Linked DNA regions of Homo sapiens. The protein of the gene in region 4 interacts with the protein of the main gene of each other region in a biochemical or structural test. Each region holds a gene or a part of one and is shown on either strand. Other genes may lie near its edges.

Region 1 (4,077 bases), on a different chromosome or scaffold from region 4:
AAGTTTCAAGGAAATCTGAGTTCTTGGAGATTTCCACTAACTCTGCCCATACCCCTCTATATTTTGTCTTCTTGAGAAGAAGACTTAGTATTAATAGACTCTTATTAGTCTGGCAGAAATATTTCACATGGTTTATCTATTGGAAGAAGGGGATTTATACTTAAAAGTTGGAATATCACATGAAGAATTCAGTAAAAACGTCTTTGAAAGTAAATGATGTATTATACTTATTAATAGAATTGGACTAACGTCACTCCAAATTTCTGTGTATTAAATTCTTAGTTTAGTAAACTGGAAATAAATTCCCTTTTTCAAAATTAGAATTTTCTGAGACATTTATGAGATAGGGAATACCTCTTTTGATTAGCATTAATACTTGCTCTACACAAAGGGAGGGGAAAAGCTTTCTTATTTACATATTGGTATGATCATCTGCATACATTTAGTCTCCCACCTATTTTAAGATCATTGGAACTGCAAAACAGAGACTGTGTAGGGTAGATTAAAATGGTTTTTTAAAAAGCCTTGAAGTATGTCTTATAGGTAGACTAGCAGTTTGGGGTTACTTTGTGTCTATCTTGTTACACATTTTATCTCTATCTTACTTATTGCATGTGCCTCATTCAGAATTAAATAAGAAATATCACTAAGTTTTTCTGCCCATTTGTTAGTTGGTGATAGACTAACAGTATACTTGATGGGCTAAACAGAATCAGAATTTATAAATTGCTATGGCAAATTGATAGTTAAGAGTGCTTCAGATGAAATAATGACCATTTAGCTGTCTGGTGTCCATTGTTTGCAGATTAACTTTGTCCAACTTCACTTCATTCTGATGATGGAACCAAAATACCTGCACAAACAGGATTGTTTTGCCTTTCCAATTATGTTATTATAATTCATGCCTTCTCCTGGGATGATTGTAATTGCTTTCTTAGTTTTGAAATTATGTGTTTTGGTTTATTCATAAATGCAAGAGTAAGAGTCATGCAAAATATTAATCATATTAAGTAGGGTGGAGGATAATGTTTTTAGGTTGGAAACTTTTTTTTCTGTAGATAAACGAGCTGTATGTGATGGAAAACTGACTTCTTGGGCCCATTTTACTTAAAGCAAATACAATAGGTTTGGAATTATGTATTTAAAAGCATGGCATTGGTCCACGTGACATGTTGGGTGTCTTGTTTTCATTTTACCAGACTCTGTTTTTATTTATGTTTTCAGTTTATGATCCTGTCCTTTGTTCATAAGGTACTTAGATGGTTTAAGATGTAGACTTCTTATATGAAGATGTTGCTGTTGTTTTTCCAAAGTAATGGTGGTCATCAGCCCATTTTTCTATTTAGTCTCATGAATAGAATCATGAGTAGAATCTTTCTTAAATTATTACTTGTAAATGGATCACTTTCTTGTTTTCTTTTTCTTAATTGGAGCTTTAAATAAATATGGAACTTGGAACAAAAAGATTTTCAGGAATTTTATGGAAACTAACTTTTTTGACCTAAATCGAAAGGGATGAAAGTTTCTGAAAACCTAACAAAATGTGTGCACAGCCAATTCTTTTAGGGGAGGAAATAGGCAGGGAATGTGTAATTGGCTATTTTAAAAACATATGCCTTCTTTTGTAACTTATTGTTGTTTCAAGTTACAAGATCTTTGAAGGCAAGTGTTTATCTCAAAATATTTGAAAGCTTTTATAGTGCTTAACATACTAAGACGTCCTATTAGGGTTTACTTAGAACAAGCTTATCCAACTTGTGGGCCACATGTGGCCCAGGATGGCTTTGAAAGCGGCCTAACACAAATTCATAAGCTTTCTTAAAACATTATGTGATTTTTTTTTTTAGCTTATCAGCTATCATTAGTGTTAATGCATTTTATGTGTGGCCCAAGACAATTCTTTTTCTTCCAGTGTGGCCCAGGGAAACCAAAAGATTAGACACCCCTGACTTAGAACTTTCCATAGGTTAGGAGAAAGTTGTACTTTCTTGATGTCTATAACCTAGAATTTCTGGTAAAGGAATTGATTGGAAATGTTATTAAAAGTTGAAAATAATTTGGAAATTAAACATTTTAGTGATCAGTTCTTCCATTGAGACTGTGTTGGTTCCTTTACTAGATATGTGCCATCTTTTTAAAAACTTACTGTGTTGCTTCCTTTACTAGAAAATTGCCATCTTTTTGAGCCTTGTCTATTGAGGAACCAAGAACACAGAAAAGGCAGTAAAAAGAAAAAAAAGGATTGTTTGAAGATTGAATGTGCTGTGATGATAGCCTAGGATTATTGTTTTTCAATTTTTGATGAGCGTAAGCATTCTTGTTGACTATATCTTTTGTAACTACTGACCCATTTAGAATGGCAGAATTAGCTGGCAGAGAGATTGTCATTCATTTTAAGCTTTCAATCTCTGACATCTTCATCTTTATTTCTCAGTCTTTTTTACTTATCAGTGGTTTACTCCATTATTTTCTCCCCTTTTAAAATGTCTTTTTTTTTTTTTTTTTACCATGGGGAAAAAAATTAGATGTTTCCTTGGCAGGGCACAATAACACAATAAGGCTTTCATGACTTAACTTTTGATTACCTTTACACCTTCATCTCCTGCTCTTCCATTGCTTGTATGACTATTTGACTCAGTGTCTTGCATGTGCTTCTGCCTGGAATCTGCTCCACTGCCCAGCCCCTCTGAATGAACACTAAACTTTCTAACCTATGTCCATCCTCTCATCTCTCTCTTACTGTTATTTTAGTAAGTATGTTAACACATTTTGATTACGCAGGAATCAGGCCATATTGTAATTATCTGCATGTATGTTTCCTTATTTAACAGAGTAGTTGTGTGTCTTATTTATCTTTAGACCCATCAGTACTTAGTATTGTATCTGGAACATGGCAGGTGTTTAGTAAATGTTTATCTGAATCAATAAGGCAGAAATTATAAATTTTATGTCAGTGTTTAAGCTAGATACATCCAATTTGACAAATCTTTTTTCTTCTTCCTCTTCAGGGGATCTTCAATATTCATGTTATTTTCTCCTTTGGTCTTATATGATTGTTACCTTTATGAAGCTTTAGTGATTACAAAGCACTTTTTTTGTCCATTTTTACCTGAGCTTTGTAAACTCTGATTTGCAGGTAAGGAAATTTAGACTAATGGTTTAACTGAGTGCCTAAGAGCACATAATTAATAAAGGACTCTAAAACTCAGATTTTTAGATTTCTTGTCTAGCATTCATTTCACTGTATAATAGCTGCCATGATTCAAGGTATCCTTTTCCCCTCACTGGATGCAGCTTTTCATTATATAGTTCTTCAGTGTGTTTCTCCAGGGCTGATCTGTTAAGTGCACTGATGGAATTTTTATACATTCCCAAGGTATGTACAAGTAGATGCTTACAAAAAATTTTCATCGGTTGGAGAGTTTTTCCTCTACTTTCATCTTCATATCCCCATTGTCTAGTATGTGGCTTGCATATAATGCACATCATAGGTGGTTAGTGTTTTCATAATTGTTAAATTAAGATATTGCAAGAATTAAAACATGACTTTAATATTATATGTATTTTTTCTTAGGATGGCTGGCTGTGGTGAAATTGATCATTCAATAAACATGCTTCCTACAAACAGGAAAGCGAACGAGTCCTGTTCTAATACTGCACCTTCTTTAACCGTCCCTGAATGTGCCATTTGTCTGCAAACATGTGTTCATCCAGTCAGTCTGCCCTGTAAGCACGTTTTCTGCTATCTATGTGTAAAAGGAGCTTCATGGCTTGGAAAGCGGTGTGCTCTTTGTCGACAAGAAATTCCCGAGGATTTCCTTGACAAGCCAACCTTGTTGTCACCAGAAGAACTCAAGGCAGCAAGTAGAGGAAATGGTGAATATGCATGGTATTATGAAGGAAGAAATGGGTGGTGGCAGTACGATGAGCGCACTAGTAGAGAGCTGGAAGATGCTTTTTCCAAAGGTAAAAAGAACACTGAAATGTTAATTGCTGGCTTTCTGTATGTCGCTGATCTTGAAAACATGGTTCAATATAGGAGAAATGAACATGGACGTCGCAGGAAGATTAAGCGAG
Region 2 (4,425 bases), on a different chromosome or scaffold from region 4:
AGTCAGCATGGGGCTGGCATGGAGCTTAACAGGGAGTGACCCTATATCCAGGTTTGCCCAGGACAGTCCCAGTTCCTAATGTGGTTTTGAGACATTGGGCCATCTGTCAGTTATAATGGCTATTGGGTGGGGAAAGGAAGTAGGGATGAAACAGAGCAATGACAGAGACCTAATCAGACCTGGGGACTGATCCTTACAGGGGTAACTGCAAGTTCAATGCATAGCATCCCAAGTGTTCTAAACCCAGGCTTGCCCCAGGAAACCCCAATATCCAACCGGTGTATTGCAGATGGGAAGGTAGCAGGAGGTCCCAGGCAACAGGAAGTACCTGAAGACAGGAAAGTGGCTGCGTGGGGAACCCGGGTGGTGAATCCATTCAGGGCAGAAGTGCAGCGCACAGTCTCTATAGCTGAGGGCTGGAGGAAGCAGAGCTGGCAGGGACATCTGCCGAAACTGATTCTGCGTACCTGGAGTCCTTGACGGAGAAGAGAGGGTCTTTCAACAAGCTCTTCTGAGTACTGAGGTACTGAGTACCTCACACTGAAATACTGAGTACCTCACACTGAAGTACTGAGTACCTCACACTGAAATGCAGTGTGAGGTGAATCCATTGAAGAGAGGAATACGGTATGGTAAGAAATTGTGGTATGAGAAAGTCCAAGAATATAAGCAAACACCTACACGTTGGTACATATCCCCAGTTCCTTCCCAGGCACTGGCCTTATGCCCAGCACCCGGAAACTCTTTGGAAGGTAGGCGTTCATGTGAAGCGGATTTTACCTGGACCTAACTAACCCGGGGAAGGGAAGGAGAGAGTGAGCCTGGGGGAGGAGCTGTTGTGATATTTGTGGTGCCAGGGTCACGACCAAGGTCATCCATACCAGGAGGGCCCTGGCAATGATTCCAGTATTAAAGAGCCACGTTGCCAACTTCTCCAGAGAAGGTATAGGAATGAAAACGACCCAAACACCTGTGAATGTGCCAGATGTTCTTAGGCAGTTTGCCTGTGTTATTTCACCTAGGCAGGTAACATTTTAGACACAAACAGATTGAGGCTCAGAGAAGGTAAAGAAACTTGTCCTAAGCACAGCTGGCAAGAAATAAAACTGGAACCCAACTCCCAACCAGTCAAAAATGGAAGCCCCCAAATCCCAAATTATTAAACATAATTTTTATTTCATCCAAGGCAAAGCTAAATACAATTCTACAATGCAAAACTTGTTGTAGAGGCCAGACTGATTATATCCGTTCTGTGCTCGAACACAAGTCAGTGCTGGCTGTGTGGGCATCTGCGCCTCCCAGAGGCACTCGCACACCTGAGGCCTCCCAAGGCCTGTTGTTGCATCATTTGATCTATAGTTACATAGGAAAATTGACTATGGGTATTGTTGTCATCCAAGCCAGAGGAATAAACCATGCATAAGATAGTCAAAAGCACTGCATATCAGGTGGGAGGTGGGAGGGTAGGGACTCCAACCTGGGACAAAGTAAAGTAAAGCAAGTTATAGGATTTTCCCGAGAAGTCCCCGCTCCTGGAACTCCCTACTGCCAGCCCTCTGATGGCAGCTGTCTGTGACACTGAGATGAAGTCATGGAGTGACGGAATGCAGGAGCACGGCTGGTCTTCTCTGCCTTTGATTCTTTCTCAGTCTCCAGATGCCTCAACAGGCATAGCTCAGGCCAAGAAAGACGGCTCCTCAAATGTCCAGCATCTGCCCATCATGCATCACCCCTTACATGCAGAGCCCATCCACTCCACAGTTACGCTGCCATGCACCCACACTGCCTGCACACGCACACTCCACACAAGCACACCCCACCTCCTGCCATCTCACAAGCATGCTCTCAAGCCCTCGCTCCACAAGAGCTCTGATCGGCCTGCCATATGTAGTCTGAGCCCCATCGGCTGCTCTCCCCAGGCCTCTCTAACATCAGGGGTTTATTCGGGCTGCCTTCTGTTCAATTACGACATGGGGAGAAGCCCAGAACCTGGAATGCTGATTTCATATTTTGTAGTTGATGAGGAGCTCAGAACTTTGTCTTTAGTCTCGCTGACATCACTCAGCCCAGCTGCATGTGGCCAGGTCTCTCAAGATCGACTTTGTAAGTGGCTCTCTCTAGCCCACAAGCCCTGGAAGCCACCATCAGAGATTTGCATGCACTGAGGTTCCACTTGGGGAAGATAGCTTTGCCCATATACATCCTAGTGCAAATCCATGCCAGTGTTTCTCCATGGGTATAATGTTGACATGGGACAGGATGATTCTTTGTTGTGGGGACTAAGTTTAGCATTCTTAGTAGTGCCCCCACGCATGGGGGCAACCAAAAATGCCCCCCCTACAATCTCAGTCACCTCTATTGAAAACCATCAAACAAAAGCCATGGACAAGAAGCTTTAAGCATCAGAGTCAAGGTTTCTAATATTGCAAAGACTAAATAATTCCAAGGGGGGTGGGATGGAAAGAAAGAGAGAGAGAGTGTGTGTGTCTGTATGTGGGTTGTAGAGATGGGACACAGAGATGAAGACAGGACAGACTTGGAACTATCCCTGCAATTAATACCTGGCTTCCCAGATCCCTTTCCAAGCCAAAAAGATGTTTTTAGACAAAACTTGCCAAGCCTCACAACAGTCCTGTGAGGTAGGTAAGTATTATTACACCCATTTGGTAGATGGAAAGAGCTGAGCTGAGAGAAGCTGCATGATCCATCTAGAAATCAGCAGTAGACCCTGGGGAGGAAAGAGAGGATGGTGCCCTTCTTCTCCCTACTCTACGTGCCTTGGCTTTCTCTTAAGACAGAAGGAGGAGCCCCAAGGTGCTCTGCCTCTTCAAATGTCACCATTGAGAAGGAAGAAGAAAACAGTTTTGCATGAAGGTAGCTATAAGAAGTTTTCTGAATGGCTGGTGGCTCTGGTCTGTCTGCTCCCAAAGCCAGGAAAATCTGAGCCCCAGCCCATGACAGGTTCTGGGTAGAGAAGAATGGGAGGCGCACAGGCAGATCAGACGGGGAACTGGTGAGCCCAGCAGGTTGGCTAAGGGACACTGGCCACAGCCACGGGCACCCTGCAGGTACTACTGGTCCTCAGTCTCCCCCCACTCCACCCTTGCGAGGCTTGCAGCTGCTTTTTGACAGGGAGAGCTCTGAGGTAGACCCCAAACTCTCTGAAAAAGGGGGCTACTCCTCTCTCATCCCTCCTAGGGGCCCAGAAGACAGGGCATCAAAAAATCAGTAAGGGAGAGAGGGATTGGAAGTAGATGGGCAGAGAGGCTTGTTACCACTTTTCCCTGCCATCCCTGGCCTCACCAATTCTGCCCAACAAGGACTCAGGAGATCCCACTCCCAACATCACCACCTCCCCCTAGGGCAGGCTAGAAACCCCAATGGGAGCACCTGGCCGACATCTCCAAGATTCAGTCACTGGCCAATTCCAGCCTCATGGCCCCCTCTATGACCCTGGGGAGGGGAGGGCTGGCGAACCCTCACCAGCACCACACCAGACTCTGCTGTTATGTCAGGACATACCGTCTAGAGAGGATGGGGGTAAGGGCTAGGATTCAGGACTAAGGCACATTCTAGCCCCACACACAAGGGCTGTGCAAACCAGCTCTGGGAGAAGCAAAGGAAAACTGTGGGCACCCACTCCCTGCTCCTCCCCAACCCCAGGGTGGGAGGGGGTGGCCCAGCTGAGCAGGAAGCAGCTGGGAAACCCAAGGACCCCCTCATCCAAAGGAAGAGAGTCCCTGAGGCGAAGGCAGGCCCTTGACCCAGGGCTGGGAAATGAACCACCCTGGGGGCAGGGCGTGATGGAGGGCACGGTGGGGGGGGGGGAGCGAGCCAATGGGAGGTTGGAGGGTGCAGCCTCTCAGGTAGGAGGGGGAGAAGCAGGGGAGAGCTGGGCTCAGGAGTGCCCAGAGTGGCGATGGTCCTGCCATGCCAGGGGAGGGGCTGCCAGCATTGGCAGCAATGGGGCGGGCATCCCAGAGGCCCAGGACACTGGCTCACTACCTCTGTGGCCCAATTCCCCAAGTAGAAATGCTTGGAAAGGCATAGGGAGCACTCGGGTACTCCAGGAAGGCTCGAGGGGCCCCTTCCTGAGCCCCTCAGTAACCCAGAGAGCAGAGGAGCAGGCTAGGTGGCCAGGAACCCTCAAGACCAGGGTGGCCAGCCCTGGTTGAGAGGGCTTAAAAACTCTGAGCAGGGGAGGGGATAGGCAGATAGGGTCCCGGGGCAGGGGAAAGGAAGTTTCCTACTTGGAAGACTGTGGGGGATCTGGTATCCTATGAAGCAGAGGCAGTCTCTCACTGTGGGCCTGCCCCCATCAGCCCCCACCCCAGGTCTTCTCCAGAGGCCTCCAGCCCACTCCCACCTCCAAAGGAAGCCACTTCTTCCTACACCCCATCTCCAGGGTGCAGCTCTTAGGACATC
Region 3 (3,967 bases), on a different chromosome or scaffold from region 4:
TGTTACCTGGGCATGCCGAATGAGAGGATGGTCTTGATATTTGGTTTGACACAGGGGAATTATTAGCACATCACTAATTTAGTCAAGGACTGGGTTTCTGGGCCTTGGATAATTGTATAATTACCGAACCATCTTTTAGAACATTTACTTCAGATATGAAGATGGAGTCCACCCCTACATTTTAAAAGATGTATGTGGCTAGGTGAACAACAGTCACACTTTGGAAACTCTGCTGTAAGTTGTAATATTAAAGGAATAAGCAATCTCAAGGCAGAAGAATAGTAAAATTAGGAGACACACGTGAGCAAATATGGTTCTAGAGGAAAAGGCTTCCCCAAGCCAGGGCTAAGTCCATCTGTAAGTGGGCAAGACCAGGCACACGTGGGCACCCACACAGGGCACACTGCTCTCCATTTCCTTTTGTTCAGTCTTAGCTTTGACCTCACACTAATTTCTTCAAATTGTGATGGTTATTATGTCTATGTTCTTGATTATGCCCAAATCCCCCTACTTAGTAAGATGTAACAAATTTACCACATAGAAACCAATGTCATGTCCTGGAACTCAATGCATTCTAACATTATAAGGATTTCAGAGCTAAATTCTCCTTTCAAGCCAGAGTTATGATTCTGGTCTATTTTTCCTGACTAAAAAACCATAGCATAAATTATGAATAACTTGGAAAGTTCTTTTTCTTCCACCTACAGAGAAAAGATGACGAGAAGGAGAGGTCTTAGAACACATCCTTATCTGAAGGACAGGATACAGTCTTGTTTTAGGAAACTCCAGCTGCTCTGTGTCATTGAAAGGGAAGAGGAGAGACCAGATGGTCCAAGTTCGCCATGGCACTGGTAAGGACCTGAGACTGACTGCAGGCCCTTCATGAAAGCAAAGCCTGGGTGTGTTATAACCGCCAGTCCCACTCTCCCACAGTGAGGTCCATCCCGGCAGGGGCTGAGTCCACCTTGACCACTGAGACAAACAGACCTGGTGATGGACTCAGTGTTTTTAAATTGTGGAGCTTGGACAGGGAGGGGCGAGATGGAGAACGAGGTATACACAAAAGAGAACAATGTGATGAGGGCATGAAGTGTGCTTACCAACCTTCCCTCACTCAGAGGCTGGAAGAGATTTTAGAGCTTAACAGAAAAAGAGTGGGAAGAGGACACTGCTGGGCAAAAGACATGAACTAAAGACTTCTCGGCTGTCCCCATCAGTGGCACGGTGGTCTCAGCAGTACCGATGTGGATACTCAAGAACGTGAGGCTACCGTGGAAATGCTTTGCTTAAACCACACGTTGAGTTTCCAAGGAGTGAAGATCCCCAGGGAAAGCATCTAGGACCCTGCCATGTTGGCCCAGCTCTGGGAAGTCAATCGACGTGGACCCCTTACTGTGTTAACTGCTAATCAGCCTTCTGTAAAAATGATATTGCAAATTCACCTGTAGCCGTCTATTTTGTTCTCTTGCTGGTGAGGAATAGGAACTGATGTAAATTGGTGAAGGTTTGCTGGAGCCTGTAAGAAAATATTTTATGAAATTAAAACTAGTGCTTATTACTCTGGTCCATTAGGCTGGGTGGTCTCCCCTGCACTAGGGCTAGCACTGTCCCCGACAGGGCCTGTCTTCCCCAGTGCCAATGCGGGCTGGGAGAGGTAGCAGCTCAGGGTCCCTGGATCTGGCCTGGCTGCTGCTTACCTCAGGGCTGGTGGGGGCTAATGGCAAAACTATGGCAGAAACAGGCTGTGTGTGTTTCCCCAAAAAGCAATGCCAGTGCAGAGCCCATGCGCAAAGGTTCCTGCTCAAGCTCTGCTCACATGTGGGAGGGTTTCTCCAGCTGGCTTTGGACAGCAGCACGGGATCCTGAGCTGAGGAACACTCCTTTTCCAGGGCTCTGAGCTACGGCAGTGGGTCAGAGAGGAGAAGCGAAACACAATATTCGAACAAGCCCCATGCCTTCCAAACAAACAACTGGGATTCAAAATCTCAGGTCAAGGAAGGAGCAACAATGGAGGCACAGTCTTGTACCTGGCATATTTAAGTATGTTTTAATACAAAAGGAACTTGGTAATAATGAGATAATTGTCTTCAAAAGTCCATAGTAGACTCCTGATGATGTTACCCTTCCATTATTATTAAGGCTAGCAAAGATTTTTATTTTTTTAATGAGGAAAATGAAACGTAGTTGAGGCAAATTAGTTTATTGAAGCAAGCGAAGAAGATACAGAAGGGCATGCATGCTAAAGAGGTGATCTGTAAGATAAAGCAGGCTGCTGCAAATCGGAAGCAACCATGCACTTCAGTTGGTATGTGCATTTCCTTTTGCCCAGAGCTTGGTGTTGAAATGTAGCATCTGCAATTTTCTGAGCTATTAATTGCCATAGTAACAACAGTCGATTAGTAAATAGTCCTGTGAAATCACAATTTCAAAGACAACAGTACAATGGAGACTGCCCCCCCAGCAGGAGTAAAGCTGCCACCAGCTTTTATTTATTTTTAATAGACAGGTTTGAGAAAAGAGTACTTTTTGTGGGGTAGCTCACACTGACTTATTTGGAACATCTAAAGTAGTTATAATCGCCAGACGGTTGAGAATGGGAACAGTATGAAATCTTAGTAACCCTTTGGGCTGGTATCCTTTAAATAAATTGTATGCACAGCTTTCTGAATAGGATATAAAAATATTAACACTATGTAACATTATTTTTGTTATTCTTAAAAAATAATCACGTTGAGAAGAATCACATTATACCTTTTGCTATTTATTCAAACTCTTCTCCATGAAAATGTAAATGAAATTGATCTCCATTCTCTGGTTTGAATTTAAGAGATGAGCCAGTCTAGAAGATGTGGCCCCTGCAAAGTGACACTGGGCTGACGGTTCTGATGCATGTGGAAAACACAGAGACTGCTCGAGCCAGGAGGGGACGGAGCAAAGGGACTGTGCCAGTGAGCAGCCAGAAATGATTTATTTGGATACAGCCCTCTTTTTATTTGTGCCCACCGTACAACTACATACATACATACATACAAACAAGTACATGCTTGTTTTACTTTAAACAAGCAGAAAAGGCAACAATCCCCAAAGTAGGAAAGGGAATGACTGGAACATGGTTTGCTGCTGGGGGACTGTCTCAATACAAGCACAGGCTACTTCCCAGGCCACTGGCCAAGCGCCTGGAAATGCGGCTTTTCAAGAGACTGTATCACACACCCAACTGGCGTCTTACCAGGGTACAGGCCTTTATGTGTGGCATCCCCTTGGCTATTGTAATACTGCATAGGTGGCTGGGTCCTATCGTATTCAGAGCGAGGGTCTCTGATTCCTAACAGTGCTGGTGAGGAAGAGGTGCTGCCGACTGAAGGGAGAGGCAAAGGAGGAGAGAAAGAGGGGTAGAAAGAGAAATCAGCATCAGTATCTGTGGAAAATCCTCTCCAGAAACACAAAGCTCAGTAACTAGAAATGACACACAGCTGGTGCTGAAAATATCTCAGAGGTGCTGGGAGTGGAAGAGCAGCTAGACCCAAGTACTGCAAGTGCTACCTGCATGCAGGCCTGCCACTGCACAAATCAGCAAAGTCAACACCGGGGCTCACTCTCAAGCTGGAGGGCAAGCTGCCCGGCTAAAGAGGCACAGTGTAGAGATCATGCAGCTTTCCCCACTAGTCTGTCTCAATGTCTTGACTAGGCGTTTGAAACTGAGTGATAATAACTTACTAGCCATGCAAGAGTTATACTTGTTATTTTATGATCCCAGTTCAGTTGCTTGCAAAATACCCACCTATTATCCTTTATGTATAGCTCTTCAGCCAACAGAAGTTTTATGGCATGTTTTGATTTCTAATTATTTCCAAAATATCCACATCTCTAAACATGTTTGAATAAAAGCACCCATTCTATAAAATTTATAATTCTTTTTATGGTGATCAAGGAAACAATTTAAACCCAGTAAGCCTGGCTCATTAGG
Region 4 (5,766 bases):
CAGCTGTTATTATTTCTATGCTTGGAATCATTTGTTTCCAGGTGAAATAGATGATTTTCTCCTCTTTCCTCCCAGGTCTTTGCTCCTGTCACTTCAATCCTGGTGCCTCTCTGCCAATAAGAACTTTATCCAATTCTGATCCTTCAGGGCTCCGCTAGAACTCATTTCCCCTTCATTGATTTCCTAGGCAGTGAGGTGCTCTAGTTGGTCTAAGGGCCCTCAGCACCTGAATACCTGTGATGGCAAGCCCAGGCCATCTCAGGCTACAGTTTGCCTCTCCAGTTTGCCTTGTCCGTGCCCTGTTTGCCTTTAGAGATGTGTAATTCTTTGAAAACAGGGCTGTGAACTGAGAACAGTTGGCTGGGGTCAGTTTCAGTGACACAGACAAACTCAATGAATAGCTGCTGACCCAGCCCACACAAGTTGCATAGGAAGGGGTCTCTACCTTCCAGTGAAGCCCACAATTCTCACACCTCTCCCTACTCTCGCCCTGCTGGCAGGTTTGTTGGTGGGACTCACCATTCCGGAGGCGATTCCTTTGGCAAACCTGACCTTCTGCTGCCAGGGGAACGGATCCTGCAGAATGGGGAATGATTTTCAGAGGCTGTTGAGCCCTGTCCCACTCGTGGTCCAGGCCCCATGGGTCAATGTGGTCTCCCAGTGAAGCCTCCCTGTGTATGCTCAGTCCCACCCAGCATGGTCCTTTGGAGGCAAAGCAGGGCCCCTCTGCCCTTTAAGCTCCTAGGGTAGTGATAGCATAGGTGTCTGACAACCCACCAAGGCTCCTGGAGACTATGGGGTGGTGTGCTCACCATACTGCGCAGAAAGTCCTTCAGTGTGCCCCCCTCAATGTACTCTGTCAGGAGGTTCAGCTTCTTATCCTTGTACAGCACACCAATGAACTTGAGCACATTGGGGTGGTCCAGGCTGCGCATCACTTTCACCTGGGGGTGGGGGAAGCCAAGGAAAGCTGGTGGTTAACTTCTCACTGTCTTCCTTACCTCTTCCCTCCAAGGAATCAGCTTGACAAGTGTTACCACCTGTATCTCCTACCTCCTATCTTGTGATATGACAGGGCACTAAGATCAGGATGAGGGAAGACCACCACCATATAGATGGAGATGGCTTCATAGGCCTTACCCTTGGAACTGCATTGGGAGAACTGGGGTGGGAGTGGCCAAGTGGCTTGGAGGGCAATACCCAGACCACAGGTGTCCCCAACTTAAGTTACTCCATGAAGTAACTTGGGAGGGGTAGTGAAAACTGTAAATGCCCAAGGAGTGTGAGTGCTCAGGGAGCTCCCCTCCAGGCTCCCTTAGCAGGGCGTTCAGGTGAGGATTATAACATTGAGTTGTACTAAATTGGAGTGTTTTCATGTCCATCATCCTCATAACCTGAGAGCTCTTCTGAACCCTGTATCTTTTGTTACTGCATCCCTTGTACCCTGTTTGTGTTGCTTTTAGTAAGTGTTCATTGAACAAATAATTACGCTGTAATTTAGAGGGAGTGGGATATTCCTCTAGGGCTCTTTTCTGCTTAGTCTTTAAGACAGTAATTCCAAACTGTATTTTCTCTTGAAGCCATTATTTGTAAGGTCTTCTCTCTTCCAATGGTGACACCAACCTCCCGGGCCCCCTCCATCTTCTTACCTCAGTCAGAAAAGTTTTCTGGGTCTCCTCATCACATCGAATTAACTCTTTCATGACCATCACTTTGCCCGTGGCTTTGTGTGTCACCTACAGGGAGGGTGACTGTTAATGGTGCTGAGACCAGAGGAAGTTCTGGAGAACTGTTTGAGAAAATCTATGCAGCTGGCCATCCCATCCCTTGGAGGGCACACTGAGCCGGGTCAGAATGACAGAGTTCATGTGTGGAAGATGCAGCGTGGAGCAACATGGGACTCACACGGAAGCAAACCCTCTTTCCTGGAGAGCTGGGCATGCACAGAGGACAGGCAAGAACCCAGAAAAGGGAAGTGGGGAAGAAGGCAGGAGGGGATGCTGCCAAGCCAAGCAGGGGCTCTGGTCATTTGGCATAGAAGTGAGTCTCCTGAGTGAACAGAAGTCTGGGGGCAGGAAGGTCAGTGCCAAAGACATGCACCAGGGAGCTGGGTGGATCGGGGGTGAGCTCTCCAGCCCTGCTGCCCCCAAGCTGAGACACACGTCTTACCTGACCCCCCCTCCCAGTTCTCAGCAGAAGAGGAGGAGGAGGAGAGAAAGAGAGAGGTTAGTCCCTGAGACTGTTCACCAGGGAGGCAGGAGCCATTCCCCTGTGTGCTCCTTGTAGCATGCCCGGTACTGAGGTCTGCAGGCACCTAACAAACACCCACTGACTGGAGGCAGGAGGGCCACAGGCACAGCTCAACCCAACCTGGATCTCCAGGTCCACAAGCTCACTGTAACAGCAACATTGACCTTAGGTGGCCTGGGTGGGGGTGAAGGATACCTCTCACACCAACACCCAAAGCCAGGAAGGAGGCCTGGCATCCTGCATGGTGTGGGGTGGGGCCAAGTGATGAGAAATCCCCGAAAGACAGTGACAGAGGGACTGGGGGCAGAAGAGCAAAGCAATTGTTGCCTGCGCTCACCTTGATAGCCTGCCCAAAGAAGCCCTTCCCCAGGACCTCCCCATGGATTAGGTCACAGGGCCGGAAGATCTGCTGTGAATAGCTGCTGGAACAACGAAGGGATTCTGAGCGGCTGATGTCACGGCTGAACAGCAGGGGCTCCTTTGGGGAGCTGGGGCCAGGGGACTTGGAGATACTGTTACTGCGCCTGAAGATGAGGAAAGACGGGAGTAGGGATGTGTAGTCCTCAGAGACCGGCCAAGAAACCCTGGAGGGAGGAAACTTAGGGGCACCTGTTCATTCCAATGTCTATAGTTTAGATGTTATTATTGGGGAACAGGGGCTCTTACATCAGATGTATCATTTTGGGGTTGCTGACATCAGTCATTTATTTAAGCATAGTAAAAACACATTCAAAATGGGAACTCTGCATACATCACACATAGAACAATTAACTAGATTCTACTAGCTGATAATGCTCAGTATGTGACATATATGACAACACTGTAGATGGTAATTCACCATCTCCCATATCTGCTTGATTTAAGTACTAACTGGTTTAGAGTGATAGTTATACTAGTATCCAAAAAATGAGCAAATGGGATTTTTTTTTTTTGAGACAGAGTCTCGCTCTGTCAACCAGGCTGGAGTGCAGTGGTGTGATCTTGGCTCACTGCAACCTCTGTCTCCCTAGTTCACCTGAGTCTCATGCCTCCGCCTCCTGAGTAACTGGGACTACAGGCATGTGCCACCAGGCCCGGCTAGTTATTGTTATTATTATTATTTTTGAGACAGAGTCTCGCTCTGTCGCCCAGGCTGAAGTGCAATGGCACGATCTCGGCTCACTGCGACCTCCGCCTTCCAGGTTCAAGCGATTCTCCTGCCTCAGCCTCCCAAGTAGCTGGGAGTATAGGTGCACGCCACCACGCCCGGCTAATTTTTTTTTTTTTTTTTTTTTTTTTGATGGAGTCTCACTCTGTCGCCCAGGCTGGAGTGCAACGGCGGGATCTCCACTCACTGCAACCTCTGCCTCCCAGGTTCAAGAGATTCTCCTGCCTCAGCCTCCCAAGTAGCTGGGATTACAGGCGTGTGCCACCACAACCGAATAATTTTTGTATTTTTTTAGTAGAGATGGGGTTTCACCATGTTGGCTAGGTTGGTCTCGAACTCCTGATCTCGCGATCCATCTGTCTCGGCCTCCCTAAGTGCTGGGATTACAGGCGTGAGCCACCACACCCGGCCCTAATTTTTGTATTTTTAGTAGAGATGGGGTTTCACCATATTGGCCAGGCTAGTCTCAAACTCCTGACCTTGTGATTCGCCCACCTCGGCCTCCCAAAGTGCTGGGATTATAGGCGTGAGCCACTGCGCCCAGCCTAATTATTGTATTTTTAGTAGAGATAGGGTTTCACCATGTTGGCCAGGCTGGTCTCAAACTCCTGACCTCAAGTGATTTGCCCGCCTCGGCCTCCCAATGTGCTGGGATTACAGGCGTGAGCCACCGTGCCTGGCCAGCAAATGGGATTTTGGATGATATTTTGCACATCTTTGTACCTGTCCATGTTTCCTGAATTTTAAGATGATAAACACGTATGATTTTTACAGCAATAAAGTCACTATGTTTACATTTTCAAAAGCGGTCGATAATAGTCATGGTCAATGACTGTTATTTTCACTTACTGAAGAAGGAACAAGAAGGTTGAAGTCCACAGCACTGCAGGTGAACAGCCCTGCGAACTTTCTCTCTGGGGTATGCTCCTGCTTTACTTGGGCTACCCAGAGAGGACTGACGCTGGATGGCTCTTGGCTTGTCCCGACCTACAGGTTTACTTACCCTTGTCCTTTTGCTCTGCCTCCTGCTGACCATGCCCACCAGAGCACACAAGGCTAGCTGCCCCCCTCCTCTGCATGGTGGCTCTACAGATACCTGGCCACTCCCAAATCTTCCCTTTTCCAGGCCATGGATTTCTAGCTCTTCCCTGCCCTCTGTTGCCCTGCCTCCCACTAATTTCATCATACTGACCAAGGCCAAGAGGCAATGGGAGTGAGGGCAGCACTTTAATGAGAGGGCACTGTTTCCAACACATGCCAGCTGAGAGGGCTCTAACTTACTCAGTTTGTTTGGTGAGGAGAGTGGATAAAAAAAAACAAACTTTTTTTTTTGGAGACAAGGTCTCACTCTGTTGCCCAAGCTGTAGTACAGTGGTGTGATCAAGGCTCACTGCAGTCTTGAACTCCTGGGCTCAGGCAATCCTCCTCCTCAGCCTCTTGAGTAGCTGGGATTACAGGCATGTGCCACCATGCCCAGTTAAGTTTTTTATTCTTTGTAGAGACAGGAATGTGGCCCAGGCTGCTCCTGAACTCCTGGCCTCAAGCAATCCTCCGGCCTTGGCCTCCCAAAGTGCTGGGATTACAGGTGTGAGCCACAGTGCCCTGCCCATCTAATTAAAAACAATTATTATTATTATTTTTTTTTTGTAGAGACAGTGTCTCACTATGTTGCTCAGGCTGGTCTCAAACTCCTGTGTTCAAGCCATCCTCCGACCTAGGCCTCCCAGAGTGTTGGGATTACAGGCATGAGCCACGGTGCCTGGCCAAGAACCTGATTCTTAGTGATACTAAGAATGTGTCACGTTTACTGAACACTGTCCCTATGGCAGCACTATACAACTTTATGTCCTTTTCCACATTTAATCCTTACATAATTGGTGAGACAGCCACCTTTATCTTACCATCTTATGTCACAGATGCAGAAACAGGCTCAGAGAGATGAAGTGATTTGTGAAGGGAGGAGCTCAGCCTGAAGCCCCAGTAGGGTATCAGTATTTCTGCCTGGGAGCCAGTGCTCTTGACTTCTTTTCTGTAAGTCTCCCTACTTGGGGCTTCCACTCAAGGCAACTTCTCCTTCCCCATGGACCTGGCAGAATCTGGGGTTTGGGGGTTGTTGGTCCCTCAAGTCTAAAAAAAACGTTCATTCATCTTTTGCTTTATTGTTTTCAAAGTCTTTCTACACAATTTATTCAATCCTATCTGTGCCCCTACTCCAGGCTCTGAGCTCCATGCTTTCTCCATAGGCCATGTTGCCCTTCAGGGTTTAGCATCACTGCCTCCTGTCCAGCTTAGGAGTTCAGTGGACAGAGACTGACTCTCAGGTTTCTAAGGAAACCTGGCAGACAGCTGGGTCCGCACAGGCTCTGGCT

What was found. Proteins that work in one complex are often made in the same cells at the same time.
Region 1: the proteins of LIMK2 (region 4) and RNF146 interact in a test that uses a peptide from one of them, tested with the Homo sapiens proteins (one large-scale study listed by IntAct).
Region 2: the proteins of LIMK2 (region 4) and SCN4B interact in a test that uses a peptide from one of them, tested with the Homo sapiens proteins (one large-scale study listed by IntAct).
Region 3: the proteins of LIMK2 (region 4) and PKP4 interact in a test that uses a peptide from one of them, tested with the Homo sapiens proteins (one large-scale study listed by IntAct).

The regions. Positions count from the first base shown.
Region 1 is NC_000006.12:127,283,042-127,287,118, forward strand, and holds part of RNF146 (E3 ubiquitin-protein ligase RNF146), read left to right. Parts: exon of another isoform or gene 1-2,307; intron 2,308-3,008; exon of another isoform or gene 3,009-3,136; intron 3,137-3,574; coding exon 3,575-4,077. UniProt on the Homo sapiens protein: E3 ubiquitin-protein ligase that specifically binds poly-ADP-ribosylated (PARsylated) proteins and mediates their ubiquitination and subsequent degradation. May regulate many important biological processes, such as cell survival and DNA damage response.
Region 2 is NC_000011.10:118,132,221-118,136,645, forward strand, and holds the end of SCN4B (sodium channel regulatory subunit beta-4 isoform 1 precursor), read right to left. Parts: 3' UTR 1,157-4,425; downstream 1-1,156. UniProt on the Homo sapiens protein: Regulatory subunit of multiple voltage-gated sodium (Nav) channels directly mediating the depolarization of excitable membranes.
Region 3 is NC_000002.12:158,676,130-158,680,096, reverse strand, and holds part of PKP4 (plakophilin-4), read right to left. Parts: intron 3,359-3,967; coding exon 3,230-3,358; intron 1,517-3,229; coding exon 1,443-1,516; intron 852-1,442; exon of another isoform or gene 708-851; intron 1-707. UniProt on the Homo sapiens protein: Plays a role as a regulator of Rho activity during cytokinesis. May play a role in junctional plaques.
Region 4 is NC_000022.11:31,262,954-31,268,719, reverse strand, and holds part of LIMK2 (LIM domain kinase 2), read right to left. Parts: intron 2,775-5,766; coding exon 2,588-2,774; intron 1,737-2,587; coding exon 1,650-1,736; intron 945-1,649; coding exon 813-944; intron 577-812; coding exon 520-576; intron 1-519. UniProt on the Homo sapiens protein: Serine/threonine-protein kinase that plays an essential role in the regulation of actin filament dynamics. Acts downstream of several Rho family GTPase signal transduction pathways.